3 separate regions of the Homo sapiens genome follow, and regions 2 and 3 are each linked to region 1. Evidence: fine-mapped expression QTL. A gene starts in region 1. Each other region holds a variant in brackets. All regions are shown on one strand. Distances are between the middles of the regions. Region 1 holds the start of SH2D4A (SH2 domain containing 4A). Region 2 overlaps CSGALNACT1 (chondroitin sulfate N-acetylgalactosaminyltransferase 1). Region 3 overlaps SH2D4A (SH2 domain containing 4A).

Region 1 (5,572 bases):
TCCTTGGGACTCAGTTTCCTCATCTGTGAAACGAGGACTGGTTCAGTCTGTGACTTCTAATGTGTGGGTATCTGACATAATCTACTGTGAAGCGAAGGAGCCTGGTGGAGCCAGGGTAGAAGAAATAGAAATCAGGAAATTAACTAACTAGGGCTTTCCTACTTTCACTCCCTGACAAGGAAGTAATCATTGCTGATACTGATTCAAACTCAGAGGACTTTCCCATACTATATCAAGGGCAGCAAATCTCCGGTTATTCAAGATCCAACAAAGGAATAGCTCAGCTAACACAGCCCCTTTCTTAAAAGAGAGAAATGATAAGCAACAAGCCCACACCTGCTATTTATTCTGAACACCAATTGCTAAAAGGTCAGAGAATCCGTTGTTTTCCATGATACCATAGATTTGGCCTGATTCTCACACCTTCACACTGTTCTACAATACAACTGTCTTTTGAATAACTCTGAGACCTAAACAAAATACAATTTTAAAAGGCCTTAGATACAGGCTAAATCATAAAAATAGTAGGCGGGCACAGTGGTTCTACATGTAATCCCAACACTTTGGGAGGTGGACATGGGTGGATTGCTGGAGCTCAGGAGTTCAAGACCTGCTTGGGCAACATGGCAAAACTCCGTCTCTACATAAAGTATAAAAATTAGCCAGGCGTGGTGGCCCGCACCTATAGTCCCACCTACTTGGGAGGTTGAGGTGGGGGGATCTCTTGAGTTGGAGAGTTTGAGGCTACAGTGAGCCGAGATCGCACCACTGCACCACAGCCTGGGTGACAGAAGGAGACCCTGTCTCAAAAATTAAAAACATTAGGTCGGTGCAAAAGTTATTGTGTTTTACATGGCCAAAAAAAAAGTAACTGCGGTTTTTTTTACGTAAAAACCGCAATTACTTTTGCACCGACCTAATAAAATAAAAAATAAATAAAAGTATTGTGGTATGGACAGTGTAACTATAACATTAACAATACAGTTTGAATTCTAATTCTTTTAAAACAGCCAGCTCTGTGGTCCAACTTTGTTTTCTTATTGAAACTTTATCTTATTCATCTACCAGCAAAAGGGCTGTTTTTGAGGATGAAACAAATTACCAGAGATGACAGCAGTTTGTAAATATATACTATTCTTCAGAAATTTGAGATTACTGTACACACAGATTTAGTATACATAGAGAATTCCACTCATATGCCAAATCTATGCCCCTGTATGCTTTCCACTTATTTATTCACTATTTTAAAATAATCGTACCCAAGTCGTTGTTTCTATTAAACCAGCAATCAAACGAAAGCCTTTGGAGCGATGAGGAGCATCTGTTTGAAAGGGGGAGGTGCCACGCTTGCTGCTTCTCTAAGCTCCCTGGGAAGGGAGAGACAACTCAGAAAACCTACAAACTGTAGCTCCTTCCGGTGCCCGCGTGACCCCCGAGTCCAGGAGCGGGCAGGGGCGCCGCTTGGCTGAGCGCACTGGGCACCCGGTCTGGGTCTGGGCCAGCCCCGCCGCTGCAGCCCGAGGGAGGCGGCGCTGCACTGGCCTCCGCGCGCTCCCAGACCCCACGTGGGGGCGCCCCTGGGTGCCGGTGCGCGGGGAACGTGCTGCGGGGGTGCTGCGCCAGCTGCCACCGTTTCCCGGGACTTCCCTCCTGGAAGATTTCCATGCGCAAGTCGAGGACGTGCTCCTGCTAGGAGTCTAGAAACTCTAGGCCAGCCCGGACCCTCCCGGGGCCTGCACTCCCCGCGGGTGGAAGCACGCGCCGCGTGTCCCTGCCGGATTCCAGAACTTCCCCGAAGGTCCTCAGCCCCGGCAGACCCTCTCCCTCGAAGTTCCCCCGCCACCCCCTGCAAGCCCCCAGGCCCCGGGGACCGCCGCTCACCTAGCCAGCGGCTCCAGACACCGGACACCGGACACCGGACACCGGACACCCGCCGCGGCCGCTCTCGCCGCCCAACCCCGCACCTGAGCCCGCCCCGGGCGCCGCGAAGGGGTGGAGGCGGGGGTGAGGCTTCCGCCCGCCCGCTCTGGCCCCTGCGCCTCCCATGCACCCATGCAACCTCCGAGGAAATTCCCTTCCCCCTACTCCCACCCCACGCACACTCTCCCCAAAGCCTCGCCCCACCCCCAGCACCTACCAGTGCTGGGCGCCCCTGGGCAGGGTGGCTCGATCACCCGCCACATCCACTTGGCCGCCAGAAGCCGTCGGGGAAGGGAGGGAGGGAAAGGCAGAGGCGTCCCAAGCGGCGCAGGCGGGCTGAGCAAATACTCCGGCCCGGACGCAAAACAGCTCTTGTAGCCGTCCCGCCCGCGCCGCCCCGCCGCGCCCACATGCCGGGGTGACTGGCGGGGCGCAATCGCGGCCCCACCCGGGCGCCTGGAGGCTCTCCAGGGCCACTCGTCGGCGAGGCTGCGTGGCCTGCGCATCTCGGGCCGCCTGGCCCGCGCGCTGTCCCCGAGCTGCGGTAGTCCGGGGTAGGCTTGTCCTCTCCTCTCTTAGTTCATGAGACAGGGATCTGCAGTCTGTGATCTCTTGGGGACTGCAGGACTTAGATTAAATCTGCAGATCTGGGCCTTTCCACGTTTCAGAGCTCGGGGTTCCTTGCTAGGTGTAGGGTAGGAGGGTGCGCAGGCCCCACTTGTTCACTCTGCTTGGGTGCTGCAGGCCAAGGCGACTCTGGAGCTTTTTTTTTTTTTCTTTTGTTGACATTAAGTAAATGATCAAACTCTTTGGCACTTGTCGGTACACGTGTGGCTTTGTAGGACAAGATGAAGGAAGGAAAAGGCTGGAAGGAAGGAGACCGCAGTCAACACAGACAGGTGGAGAAAATGAAAGAAAACTGGGGGAAAAGTTAAGATGCTGAAAGGAGTCTTGAGGATTGCAACAAGAACAGGTTGGCTTGGTGCCTGAAGACGTCAGGGAGGAGCTGGCAGTCCACAGTTAGAGGAAATCTTGGAGGAAAATTGAGCAGAAGCACAGTGGAAAGGCATTTCCACTGGAGGGCATTTTCCATCCTAGAGGAGCATGTGGAAGAAAACCGCCTGCTTTGGTGAACCCCAGATTTTGTGTATTGGGAGAGATGTAATAAACAGTAAACACCAGTAGTCCTCTCCACGGACTACCTGACCTCTTTAGGAGCCTGACCTGCTGGATTCAAACACAAAATGGCATTTCCCTGCCTCTCCAAACTGCAGAAGCTGTGCAGAGTTACATCAAGCCTCGGGGCAGGCGGCATTGTCAGGAAATAAGACCCAGCTATTTAGGAACAATTCCAGGAATCCCATCAGGGAGGAATTTCTGGTGTAAGGCTTAGTTCCTACTGCAGTTTAAATGATAGCATATGGGGTGCTTTAGGCTGGAGTGGGATTGGCCCCTGGAAAGCTGCTATGACGAGGTCAGAATGAATCCTAGCCCTGCATGGATGCATCAGTTGAACCATACAGGGTGGTTTATCAGTTAGGAAAAATCCCACAGGACACTGTGACAGCCTACCTTCCTCACACCCAGTCTCTCTCCAGGTCCTGGCAAGTCCTTCCTTATAACAGCTTTATCACTGTGCTACTAACCTCTGTACCTCACTTTCCTCCTCTAGATAAAGAGTGTCTGCCTCGGTAAGTTGTCAAGAGGGTTAAATGAGATGCTACATGCAAAGAGATTAGAAGAGCTCTTGGCATGTGGTGAGTGTTCAAACACATTCACTCAGATCAGTTCATATCACATTAAGGTACTGGAATTCCACATTCCTGCCATCTCACCCTAGGCTGTGGGTTCTGCCCACCATGCCACCTACCTTCCAAGTCATTCCCAGGGATCCTATCCTCCTGGTATTCACATCCTTGCATAGCTCCCTGCCACTTTGTAAAGGTTGGTATGCTTGACCAATAGAACCCGGCAGAAGTGATGATGGTCTGCCACTTCAGAGATTAGGTAAGGAAACACCTTGGTGCTTCTATCTTGAAATAATATTGACAGCCCAAAGGAACGCACGCTGTACACAAATAATGCAAACAACTCAGAACCCAGACTCTCTTCCCTTTTCTCTCATCTGCCCATTTCCATCCTTCTTGTCTCGTGGCTCTTTCCTATATTTGCCATGAACTCTTCTTCTTCTCTTATTTTTATAGTTTCTTCTCCATCCTCTTCACTTGGTCTCCCCTCTCCTCTATCACCTTCTCTTTTTGTTTCCTTTCTGCTGACTCCTGGAATTTCCTCTTTTAATTGGCATGGTCTGGAAGAGAAAAGGTAGATGTTTTTCCCTTAATTTCAAAAGTAGACAATTCGAATTTTTTTTTTTTTTTTTTTTTTTGAGATGGAGTTTCACTCTTTTTGCCCAGGCTTGGAGTGCAGTGATGCAATCTTGGTTCACTGCAACCTCGGCCTCCTGAGTTCAAGTGATTCTCCTGCCTCAGCCTCCCAAGTAGCTAGGATTATAGGCACCTGTCACCACAACTGGCTAACTTTGTATTTTGTTTTTGTTTTTTTTTTTTGTTTGTTTGTTTTTTAGTAGAGACTAAGTTTGACCATGTTGGCCAGGCTGGTCTCAAACTCCTTACCTCAGGTGATCTGCCTACCTTGGCCCCCCAAAGTGCTGGGTTACATGCGTGAGCCACTGCGCCTGGCCAAGAATGTTTTATAATGCTCTAAAAAAAAATCAGGTGGCCTATTACTTGTGGGGCCTTCAGTTACTTTTTCCCTCCCTTTGGGCCAGTACTCTCAGAGGAAAACATTTCCCCCCTCCATGATCTAGGATGTGTTATAGGGACGAATGTGGGGAAGACTGCTGACAGGGGCTGGCCACTGACGAGTCACAGACATGGAACATGGTAGCACCAACATGTGTTCAGGAATGCTCTGCTGCAGCGTTCACTGCCAGAACTTAAAGAGAAAGCTAAACATCTATTTATTGGTTACTAATATTTTTAATTTGTCATTTATTCGTGGTAATGAATACCATGAAACAAATAGCCTACATTTTAATGGATGTGTTCCTTGGCCTTCCTTTTGGACTGTTGCTTAGGAGCCCTGCTGCCCAGGGCTGTCAAGTAAAATGGCATAGCATGGCCCTTGTACAACTGTGGGTGGGCAGGGGACAAGCACAGAGATCACTATGTGTAAGGCGCCCCCTGGAGTTGTGCAACACTGCCAGCCCTATTGTTGCCAGAAAGACAGGATAAGCCACTTTGCACTTTTTCTGAGATAAAGATTAATCCTTATTTCAGTTCTACAGACAATGAAAATTGCCTTCATATGTTTTCTTTATAAAATAGAGTATTTTTCCTGTCATATTTTATGATCAGCATCAGAAACCTCAACCACTTTTTAACTGTTAGAGCAGGTATACACTTGTACCACAGTGAATGTAACGTACAAATGAAAGAAAAATACAAAAACATTTAAACTTTACTAAAAACTGATCAAATCTCAAAATAAATCTTAATCAGTTCATCAATCATTAAAAATATATTTAGGGTCTGCTGTGTTTTCAGCTCTCTGTGAGCAGTTAGATTTGATTTTGAACTATTTTCATTTGTGTATGGTTCTGTATGGGCCTTTATTTCTTCATCTTCATAAA
Region 2 (5,572 bases), 200 kb before region 1:
GAAGATGGAGCTGCCATCTTGAATACTTCTAGTCCTTAGTTCCTGCTGTTAATCATCCATGCAAACTCCCAGCTTGCTTATGTATGTCTGGGGCTCCACTTTTCAGGCTGCTCTTAGTTAGAAAATGATTTGGGGCTGCTTTTCATTTAAAAGAAAGCCTTACTGAGGACTCCCATACCCTTACTATTTGCCTAAGTGATTGCTTCTTAACTCCTGTATCAGAAAGTACTTGGCTGGGGAGTGTTGCTCATTTTTAAATTAGTCCCCTCTTTGTTAATTAACAGCATGCATTTCTCTAGAAGCTGTGTGATGCTACCTCAGACCCTGATCTCTCCAGGTGCTTACTTTCCTGAGTCTTGGAGTCTCCCCAGTGCCAGGGCTGGTTTCTGCCTGCACAGAAGAATGTTAGTTTGACACATGGCCATTACATGGGCATCTACTTTTGCAGTGCTCTAGAGGAAAGAAGAGAGAACTGAGTGTGATATGGTTTGGCTGTGTCTCCACCCAAATCTCATCTTGAATTGTAGCTCCTATAATTCCCACATGTTGTGGGAGGGACCTGGTGGGAGATAATTGAATCATGGGTGTGGTTTCCCCTATAATGTTCTCCTGATAGTGAATAAGTCTCAGGAGATCTGATGTTTTTGTCAGGGGAAACCCCTTTGGCTTGGCTCTCATTCTCTCTTGAGTGCTGCCTTGTAAGACGAACTGTTCCCCTTCTGCCATGATTGTGAGGCCTCCCCAGCCATGTGGAACTGTGAGTCCATTAAGCCTCTTTTTCTTTATAAATGACCCACTCTCGGGCACGTCTTTATCAGCAGTATGAAAACAGACTAATACACAGTGTTTTGCAGGAGAGCCTTCCACAGTGATCACTTTAACCCTTCTAGAGATATTCTCTTTTTCTTCTTTTCTTTTTTTTGAGATGGAGTTTCACTCTTGTTGACTATGCTGGAGTACAGTGGTGCAATCTCGGCTCACGGCAACCTCTGCCTCCCAGATTCAAGCGATTCTCCTGCCTCAGCCTCCCGAGCAACTGGGATTACAGGCATGTGCCACCACACCCAGCTAATTTTGTATTTTTAGTAGAGATGGTTTTTCTCCATGTTGGTCAGGCTGCTGATCTCGAACTCCCAAACTCAGGTGATCTTCCCACCTCGGCCTCCCAAAGTGCTGGGATTACAGATGTGAGTCACCATGCCTGGCCCTCTTTTTCTTCTTTCAAAGAACATTTCTTAGTTGCTTAAAAATTCTACTTGCCGTGATGCTTTTTAGTTGAGATGCTTCGAACTTGATATGTGAGTATAAACTCCTGGCGTCTTACACCCACATATCAGGTTTGAGGCATCTCAACTAAAAACCAACCACCTCTCCAGGTGGGCAGTGGGTCATGGCCAAAGTAGGGAATGGAGAACAGGAAATAAATGTGGCTGCAGATTCCAGCTGGAAATGGAAACTCCAGGAGCAAAGGCAGCACTTGAACCACTGAGACTGCCGTGGCCGCTGTGTTCACCTCGATCCCCAGAAAGCAGCCACTTCCAGCATCTCACCCCCTCCTGGGGGCTCCCATCATGGAAGCCTAAGGGCCAGGCCCAAGGAGTAATGGGTGACATTCCCCCAGCCCACCCAGAGCCTGGTCTGTGGAGGCCACACGGCTGGAGGGTCTGGTGGAATCACTTAGAAACACTTGAATGTTGCGAAGATATTCTGCCTGGCCCTAGTTGCAGGGACAGAGCAAGGCTCACACCGGGATGGGGATTATTTGTCAGGATAGTGTGAGTTTGCCTAGCTGTTGAGAGATGTGTAAATGCAGATCACGGCTACATGGGGGTACAAAACATTTTAACTAGAGAAGCAGTGATTCATGCCACGTTTGAGGGGCCAGGCAAGCTCATAAATAATATTTATGAGTTCAGAAACAAGAAAAATTGGACACGCTGGGTGTAGAATGAGGAGCAGGTCTCAGCAAGCAGTTTGAGATTATGAAGCGGGTTGAACAGTATAGCGTAGTGGGTAAGAATCAGACGGAGCTGGGTTTGAAGCTGGGCTCTGCTACTTGCCAGCTGAACATCTGGGTCAAGTTACTTCATTGCTTTAAGCTTCAGTTTCTGTTTCTTTAATGGGGTTAATAAGATGTAGCTCATAGGATCGTTTTGAGGATTAAATGAGATAATATTTGTGAAGTGCTTTGTATGATGTCTGGCCCCAACGTAAATGCTCACTAAGTGCTTGTAATTATGAACGAGGGGAGGGTGTTGGAAGGCTGGTTTCATGCGGTTCTCAGTTTGGGGTGAGAACCGGCACCAAGAGCCCCAAAAGACTCCGGGAGTCAGGTCTCCTTGCGGGGTTTGGCAGCTGACTCAGCCCCACATGTGTGCTTGAGATGTCTTACAGCTGGAAGAAGCGTCTTTATTCTGTACACCTGGCTTGAGTAGCATCTTCTTATGCCAGTGTCCTGCCCTCATTGCACCTTCTGGGGTCCATGACCACCACCCATGCCAACTACCTGCCTTAGGTCTTCCTGAAGCAAGGGTGGCAGTTGTAAGGAATGGGACTAGACGGTCTGGCATAGACAGGAAGCCCCTCTCCATCAAGCCTCCTCTCTAAA[A/G]GTTTGCCAGCAAATTAAAAATCAAAATAAAAAAAAAATAGGACTTGAGTCTGTTTCTTGACCTTTTGGTGCTTGTGGTTGTGATCAGTGTGCTTTCATTTTCTGATTAGCAGGTGCCAGCTTCTTTTTGCCACATTTCCCTTTTTCTGCTTCAAGGCAGGGAAATTGAATCAGAATTCTTTTACTTAGTTATTTATTTTTTTGATTTACACTTATGTGTTTATTCTCAGTTGCTTTTCTATTGAGAATTCTTTTAAAAGACCAACGAGGAGTTGAGGGGATGGAGGATCCCTCCCAACTAGGGAATTCCTGACTGTGAAGTCATTTGCAAGCCCATTCCCCTGGGCTGGGTCAGTGCTGGTCCCTGGAGAACACGCCCTCTGAGTCTGCAGATAGGGGGACCTCACAGGGAAGACTCAAGGAGCATCTTGAAGGCTGAGCCTAAGTCTTTTGGGTGAGGAAGGAAGGGAAGTGGGTTGTGGGTGGAGTCCCGGCAGTTTGGTCACATGGCCTGACAGCAGGTGCTGAGGACCTGAGATAGAGATAGTGGGGTCCAGAGGCAGGAAAGGACATGGCCTGACAGCAGGTGCTAGGGACCTGAGATAGAGACAGTGGGGTCCAGAGGCAGGAAAGGCACTCTGAGGCTGGGTTCCCGAAGGAATGGGGGATCAAGGCATGATCCTGGCACTGGGGACCTGGAATCAGTTGTGGCAAGAGCCCTGCCCCAAGGACACTTGTAATGCAGTCAGAAGATCAACTACTGGAAACCTGGAGCTAGGTATCTGTGGGCTCCAGGATGGTCCATCAGGGTGAGACAATATTATTTAAAAATATTTTACGCTTTATTATTTTAGATATATTGTAAATACATAATACTACATTATAAAGCTTGTATTTAATATTTTATTTTTATTTTCTTTTGGAGACGGAGTTTCACTCTGTCCCCCAGGCTGGAGTACAGTGGAGTGATCTCAGCTCACTGCAACCTCCACCTCCCAGGTTCAAGTGATTTTCCTTCCTCAGCCTCCCAAGCAGCTGGGACTACAGGCATGAGCCACCATGCCAGGCTAATTCTCTTCTGTATTTTTTTTTTTTTGGTAGAGACGGGGTTTCACCATGTTGGCCAGTCTGGTCTCAAACTCCTAACCTCAAGGGATCTGCCCACCTCAGCCTCCCTAAGCACTAGGATTACAGGCGAGAGCCACTGTGCCTGGCCTGTATATAATTTTTAAATAGATACATGTATATATATATATATATATATATATATATATATATAGTCTCTGTTCAAAAGTCATATGATGCCTGAAATGTGCTATTTTTGTTTAATTAATGTTTGGAGACAGCTGGTCTTGAGTATTGAGGAAAGAGGAGGAAAAGCAGCAAAACTGCTAGGGCCACCAAGGCAGCTGTCCACACAGATTGCTGTCTGTGTGAAACCCGAGCCAGTACCTGTGCTAAGTAGCTCGGTGTCAGGGCTGGAGGGGGTCAGGGAAGAAGGCTTCAGATCCTTCCACAGCCAACTCCAAACTCTTGGCATTTAATTGTTGACTCCCCAGTGGGACCCCTGTCCTCTCGCTGGGATTTGGCTCAAGCACCTCTTAGTGCATACACAGTAATACTGATCTGCTTTAGTTGCTGTCAGGAACGTAGCAGAAGATAAAGCACTTGGCCCATAGATAGATGCTAATGAAAGTCTCAATGGAAAAAAGAAACCTGCATTCCAGAAAGATCTCTGACACCTGAAAACCCTGCTCTGAAACTTCTGGGTGGATGTGGTTTGGGGAGATGATGAGCTATTATGCTCATTTTCAGGTCATTTTGGCTTCTTTGAAAGTATAGTTATGTGATGTGTAACATTTTGTCAGTGGACCGAATACATGTGGGTGGTTCTATAATTATAATACTATATTTTTACTGTACCCTTTCTTTGTCTAGATGTGTTTAGATACACAAATACCATAGTGTTACAGTTGACTGCAGTATTTATTATAGCCACATGTGGTACAGGTTTGTTAGCCTAGAAGCAATAGGCTATACCATATGGCCCAGGTGTGCGGTAGGTCTACCATCTAGCTTTGTGAAAATACACTCCATGATCTTCACACAACAACAAAATTGCCTGATGATGCATCTCTCAGAACATTTTTCTTTCATTAAGCAATGGCATAACTGTGCCTCAGCCCTAAACTAATTAAGTGTGTATAAGAGATAGATTATTGTGGATTCTAGCAGTTGTAGGTGTTGGTTGTATATACTCATTTTCTTTAACAGCAGGCAGATGGCACAAAATATATATATATATATATATATATATAGAGAGAGAGAGAGAGAGAGAGTGAGAGAGAGAAAATTCTATGAACAGAATGTACTGGGTGTAGGAATTGGGAGCGTTAGGGTCTTTCAATCATTATAGTGGCTTTCGTGTGTCTTCCGTTACATTTTGCGGTATTTTCCTTTGATCTTAAGACCTTTGCTGTCCTCTTTTCTCCCACATTGTCGCTATCCTCCTATGTCCTGGGTGCTACCACCCACCTCTAATATTCAGTGTCTAGTGCATGGTCTTGGTAGGAGATGATGGAGCCTTGAGTAGGGTGGTGGTGGAGGTAGAGATGCAAGAACTGATTTGAGATACTTTTGGAACAGGAAGCATGTTGACATGGTGATGAGTCAATGGCAGAAGATGATGGAGAAGGAAGGGCTAGGGATGGTTTTCCTGCCTCTGGCTTAAGCAGCTTGGTGGGTTGTGCTGCCGTTGGCTGCAAAGACAATGACTGGAAGGGAAGCAGAGCTGCTGTGCTTCATCACTTCTCAGTTAACTTGGCCCGTGTGCTGTAATAGTCAGCTACTTCTACACAACACACCATTGTTGACTCTGGTTTCTGGAAACAGTGTTCCTCTGTTTTAACTTTACAGATTTCCTAAAGTCCCTGACACTTAAAGAAAACATTTTTGGATTAATGA
Region 3 (5,474 bases), 82 kb before region 1:
CATTCCTAGACCCAGAAACCTTGCGCAGGCAGGTCAAGGAGCTGGGCTTGCAGAGGCAACAGGAGGAGGAGACCAGGGTCAGAGTTTGGACATCTTCACCTCAGACCGTAACTCAGGGTAAATGTAGGCAGGACAGAGACCACAGCACTGCTCGGATGACCATTCAGGCCTCCTGAATTCCATTCGGTTGAATTCAGTTTCTGAAATCTGTAAACCATTCTCCTTCCCTAAGAATTTCAAGTGTCATTCGTGCCATCATATCATCCAACACTGGACAGTGTATTCCTCTATCAATCAGCAACCAACAGGATAAACTAGTCCGGAACCCACATCTGCTCCCCTGTGTAATATTGGGTGAATTCAGTTGGGTGACTTCCTGTTTTCTAAATCTTCCTTTAATAGGATGTTGCTTTGTGTAGTTATATCTGGATATGGCCACAATTATTTCCTACAAGATAACTGTAGGCACAGGGGGGTATTGGATTTTTTTTTCCCCCAGCACGTAGTCTTGCTTTGTAGCCAGACTGGAGTACAGTGGTGTGATCTCGGCTCACTGCAACTTTCGCCTCCCAGGTTCAAGCAATTCTCCTGCTTCAGCCTCCAGAGTAGCTGAGATTACAGGTGCATGCCACCGTCCCCGGCTAATTTTTGTATTTTGAGTAGAGACGGGGTTTCACCATGTTGGCCAGGCTGGTCTTGAACTCCTGAACTCATGATCCACCCACTTTGGCCTCCCAAATTGATGGGATTGCAGGCATGAGCAACTGCACCTGGCCAGTACTGGAATCTTACATCTTCCTAATTATTAGTGGTGACAAGTGGGTACTTTCCATTCATTCCAGTGAGAAGCACTAGAACCTTAAAATTTCAGAATTGGATGAAAATAACAAAGATCACCCAGTTGAATCATATTTTTTTTTGTTCAGAAGCAAAAACTGAGGCTCAGAGACAAACTGTCCTGTCCAAGATTATACAGAAAATGGTAGGAAGAGTTGAGAAGTTTCTCAATAATGCCATGACTGTTGAATCATAGGAACAAAAGCCAAGAGATGGATCCTTACAATAGTTTAACAATATAAACCACATGGAACATTTCAAGAAAGAGTTAAACAATGATCTATGTTTAAAAGCTATCTCTACCTGGCATAGTATCTCACATCTATAATCCTAGCACTTTGGGGGTTTGAGGCAGGAGGATCGCTTGAGGCTGAAGTGAGCTGTGATCGCACTACTGCATGCCAGCCAGGGTGTCAGAACAAGACTCTGTCTCTAAAAATAATAATCACCATCATCTTTCTCATTAGAACACACATGCCAACCATCCCCTTCTCTGGCTACATTTTATAGTCAATGAGTGCTGTACGCAACCAACAAGCTTGTAACAACACTGCTGTATCATTCTGCTTTTATTAGAAGGCAATGTAAAAGAGTATTGACCTACACAGTTAGGCCAGAGGTACTAGCCAATCTCCATCCTCCAAGAAAAATGATCTCCAGTGGCTCAGAGCCACCTCAGTCCCTGTCCAGAGGCCGTTCGCCTGACTGGGACTGGACTGAGGTGGGCGGGGGTTCCAGGAGGGCATAAGATTCCTGACGGGACAAATATGTGTGCCAGGGCTAAACAGAACTGGCTGGAATGTTTTTCTTACCTCCCATTTCTACTTCATTATGAAAATGGTGGACTGGGCAGCAGTGAATGGGTCGATCTTGTGTGTCAGGTTATGTAATTACATAAACGACTGTATTAGCTTTCTGGGGCTATAGTAACAAGTCAGCATGAACTCAGCATGAACTAAGCAGCTTAAAACAACAGACATTTATTCTTCCAGTTCTGGAGTCTGGAATTCTGAAGTCAGGGCCATGCTTCCTTCTAAGGCTTGTGGGGAACCTGTCCCATGCCTCTCTGCTGGCTTCTGCTGGTGGCCGGAGATCCTTGGTGTCCCTTCCCTTCCGGCTGCATCACTCCAACTTGCCTCTTGTCCCCTGGTCTTCTTCCCACTGCATTTGTGTCTATTACCAAAACTCTCTCTTCTCCTAAGGATGCCAGTCATTGGATTTGGGGCCCACCCTAATCCAATGTGACCTCATCTTGACTATATCTGCAAAGACCCTATTTCCAAACAAGGTCCCATTCACGGGGATGGGGGTTAAGACTTCACCATATATTTTGGGGGAACACAATTCAACCACAAGTAGCATCCAAACAGCCTGCTTATTCTGTTCTTGTCTAAGCACTTCTGATAAAAAATAAAAAAATACATGTACAGATGCTTTATCCTTTTGGTGCACTATAGAGTATATCCAGGGGAGGCCAGGCCAGCCCCGGCCCCATTCTCCCGAACAAGAAAACAAACTCAGCGATGTTTGCTCACTTTCCTGCAGGTCCATCTGTATTTTCATGCATGTTAAGCCTCTCATTCAATTTACATTCATGACTTCTGTTTTTCTATGTCTCTCATGTCCTGGTTCCAACATGTACAATAAGTGAGGTGTGTTTTAAGCATCATCTCAGCCAGGAAAGGCTTTTGCTACCATTCCAAAGCCAACATGAAACTTCGAAACTTCATGTCAACAGGCCCCTGAAACCTCCTGAGATGATACAGAGGGAGTGCAGGGGTCATATGATAGATA[T/C]TCGTTTTCAAGTACACCTTAATTTCTAAAAGTTTTCCATTTCTTCATTTGTTTTATTTTATGTACATCATTAAGGTCATACCCTTCATGACAGGTACTTGCTGAAATTGAGACTCTTCTCCCTTTTGAGCAGAGGTCATTTTCTCTTGACATTGAATTCCAGTATTTGTGCAGAAAAGAGGTGTCAATGAGGACTCCATGGATACTTTACTTTCAGTTGATCAGTATTGGCTCTGCTGCAGGGTGATTTTGGCTTCACACATAAATGTTGCAGTGGCATTTGTCCAGGGGAAAGCCCGCTTGGAGGCTGTAGGATGACCCTGATGGAGGCTGTCACTCAAACAGCTCCAGGTAGTCAGGCAGCTGGTCCTGCTGACCACAGGGATAGAGAAGGAGCTCCTTCCCCAGGGAAGTGATGGGTTCCTCCTGTCAATCAGAAGGCACGGGGTCAGATAGTGTAAGTAGTGACCACATGCTCTTCCTACTTCCTCAGAGGACATCACTAGCTGCCTACCCATGATTTACACAAAGCTTTTGTGGTTTATGATCATCTTAAAAGGCATTTTTCTTATCTACATGTGACCAGGTACTCCTTTCCCTTCAGGGCTTGAATTCTAACTTAAGGCCTATGAATTCTCATAGGTCAGGGGTCCCCAACCCCAGGGCCATGGACCAGTACCAGTCTGTGGCCTGTTAGAACTGGGCTGTATAGCAGGAGGTGAGCAGTGGAGTGAAGCTTCATCTGTATTTACATCTGCTCCCTGTCATTCACATTATCGCCTGAGCTCTGCCTCCTGTCAGATCAGTAGCAGCATTAGATTTTCATAGGAACACAAACCTTATTGTGAACTGTGCATGGGAGGGATCTCAGTTGTGCGCTCCTTAGGAAAATCTAATGCCTGATGATCTGTCACAGTCCCCCATCACCTCCAGATGGGACTGTCTAGTTGCAGGAAAACAAGTTCGGGGCTCCCACTGATTCTACACTATGTTGAACTGTATAATTATTTCATTATATATAACAATGTAATAATAAAATGCACAATCAATGTAATGTGCTTAAATCATCCTGAAACCATCCCCCAACACTGAGTCCATGGAGAAATTGTCATCCAGGAAACTGGTGTCACAAAGTTTGGGGATTGCTGTCATATGTGATCCATGTGGGTACAGCTTTTATTTTTTTGTTTTAGCATTTCCCGTATTCTCTGCCCCAGTGGGGTTCCCTGAGTATTTAAGGAAGAACTAGGTTCTAAGATAAATGAAATGTGATTAACAATCCTGATTATCAGGAAGAATTATCAAAGACAAGCCCCCACCCCTGTCCCCTCCCCAGTACTTGTCTCAGTCCTTTTCTTTGTAATTGTCATTCATTGTTAGAGCTGCTACAGGACAGTAACTCAGAAGGCAAATTAAGTTTATGCATTGCTTCACCTTGTGATATTCCACCAAATCCGCCAAGGTGGCATGCTGTAGCTGGTCCACGCCCAGGAAGCTGTAGGCGTCTGCAGAGGCATCGATGAGGAAATGTTTACAGCCGTCCTCCGACAGATAGGACAGGGCATAGCCTTTGATCCTTTCACTGACTCGGATGAGAAAACTGCCGGGCATGCCTGTGCTCAGAAGAAGTTCATTTGCTTTCTTGAGTGTGAGAATTCCTGTGGCAAAGCAAAAAAAGGCAGGTATTTCAGCCAAATCATTCCAGAAAATCCCCTCTGTTAAATCCAGCTGCATGGATATAGAGTCAATGACGCCTAAATAAGACACAATAAGAGCAATTTTAAGTCTGTTTTGGGCTTCTTAGGAATACGGAATATTCTTCTGGTATTTGCTAATTAGACATGAACAGGTTATAGAGGCAAACTGTATAAAAATCATGTATAGAGGTATACATGAGAGCTTAAATGTCAACCTTAAAAGAAGAATATATTTCTGGGCCAGGCGTGGTGGCTCACGCCTGTAATCCCAGCACTTTGAGAGGCCGAGGTGGGTGGATCACGAGGTCAGGAGATCGAGACCATCCTGACTAATACGGTGAAACCCCATGTCTACTAAAAATACAAAAAATTAGCCGGGCGTTTTGGCGAGCACCTGTAGTCCCAGCTACTCAGGAGGCTGAGGCAGGAGAATGGTGTGAACCCAGGAAACGGAGCTTGCAGTGAGCCGAGATCATGCCACTGCACTCCCTCCAGCCTGGGCAACAGAGCAAGACTCCATCTCAAAAAACAAAACAAAAAAAAAAGGAATATATTTCTACTTATACACCCATTTAGAGCAACACACAGGTGTTAGACGGTTTATAAGGGTCTAACAGAACGCCTTGATGGTCATCCTGGGAATGTTAGATCTGGGAGGGGATTTAAAGATACTCTCCCTAGGCTACCTCAGTTTACCAACAAGGACTCAATGGCCTGGGGAGTGATTTGACTTGGTCTAGGACAGTGGTTCTCAACCACTCGGACAAAGGTGTCCGAGAGACATCTTTGGTTGTCATGGATGGAGGATGGGGTTAGAGGTCAGGGATGTTGCTAAACAGCCTATGAGACACAGAACAGCCCCACACTGCAGAGAATTATCCAGCCCCAGATAGCAGTAGTGCTGAAATTGAGACTCCCTGGTGTGGGAGGCTCAGTAATTTAGTGACAGAGCCAAGTCAGACTCAGTTCTACTCAGTTCTATAAAGTACCTTAGCCTGTAGCTATTGCTAAATGACACTACACTGGCATTTAAAGGAATAAAACTATATGTGTGTCTTTATATACACATATGAAGTTATATATAGACATAGCTTAGATGCCTCAGGAATTCACACTCTTACTCCAGACCAGCCTTTTCCCCAGTTA

What was found. PIP is the estimated chance that this variant, and not a neighbour inherited with it, causes the effect. A credible set is the group of variants that fine-mapping cannot tell apart.
Region 2: its variant is the best candidate, but not a certain one, in a credible set for the expression of SH2D4A in whole blood (TOPMed, PIP 0.65).
Region 3: its variant is the best candidate, but not a certain one, in a credible set for the expression of SH2D4A in sun-exposed skin (GTEx, PIP 0.87).

The regions. Positions count from the first base shown.
Region 1 is chr8:19,310,389-19,315,960 of GRCh38, reverse strand. SH2D4A (SH2 domain containing 4A) reads right to left here and starts at 2,268. Exons shown (of 10, transcript NM_022071.4): 1 at 2,138-2,268. LOC105379306 (a long non-coding RNA gene) reads right to left here. Exons shown (of 4, transcript XR_949550.3): 4 at 4,137-4,228.
Region 2 is chr8:19,512,791-19,518,362 of GRCh38, reverse strand. All of the region lies in intron 2 of CSGALNACT1 (chondroitin sulfate N-acetylgalactosaminyltransferase 1), which reads left to right. Among named protein-coding and RNA genes, the nearest start is that of CSGALNACT1-AS1, 160 kb to the left of the region's middle. The variant A/G (reference allele first, on the strand shown) is at 2,609.
Region 3 is chr8:19,392,133-19,397,606 of GRCh38, reverse strand. It overlaps SH2D4A (SH2 domain containing 4A), which reads right to left. Exons shown (of 10, transcript NM_022071.4): 9 at 4,066-4,289; 10 at 1,389-3,057. The coding sequence ends at 2,965. Among named protein-coding and RNA genes, the nearest start is that of SH2D4A, 81 kb to the right of the region's middle. The variant T/C (reference allele first, on the strand shown) is at 2,632.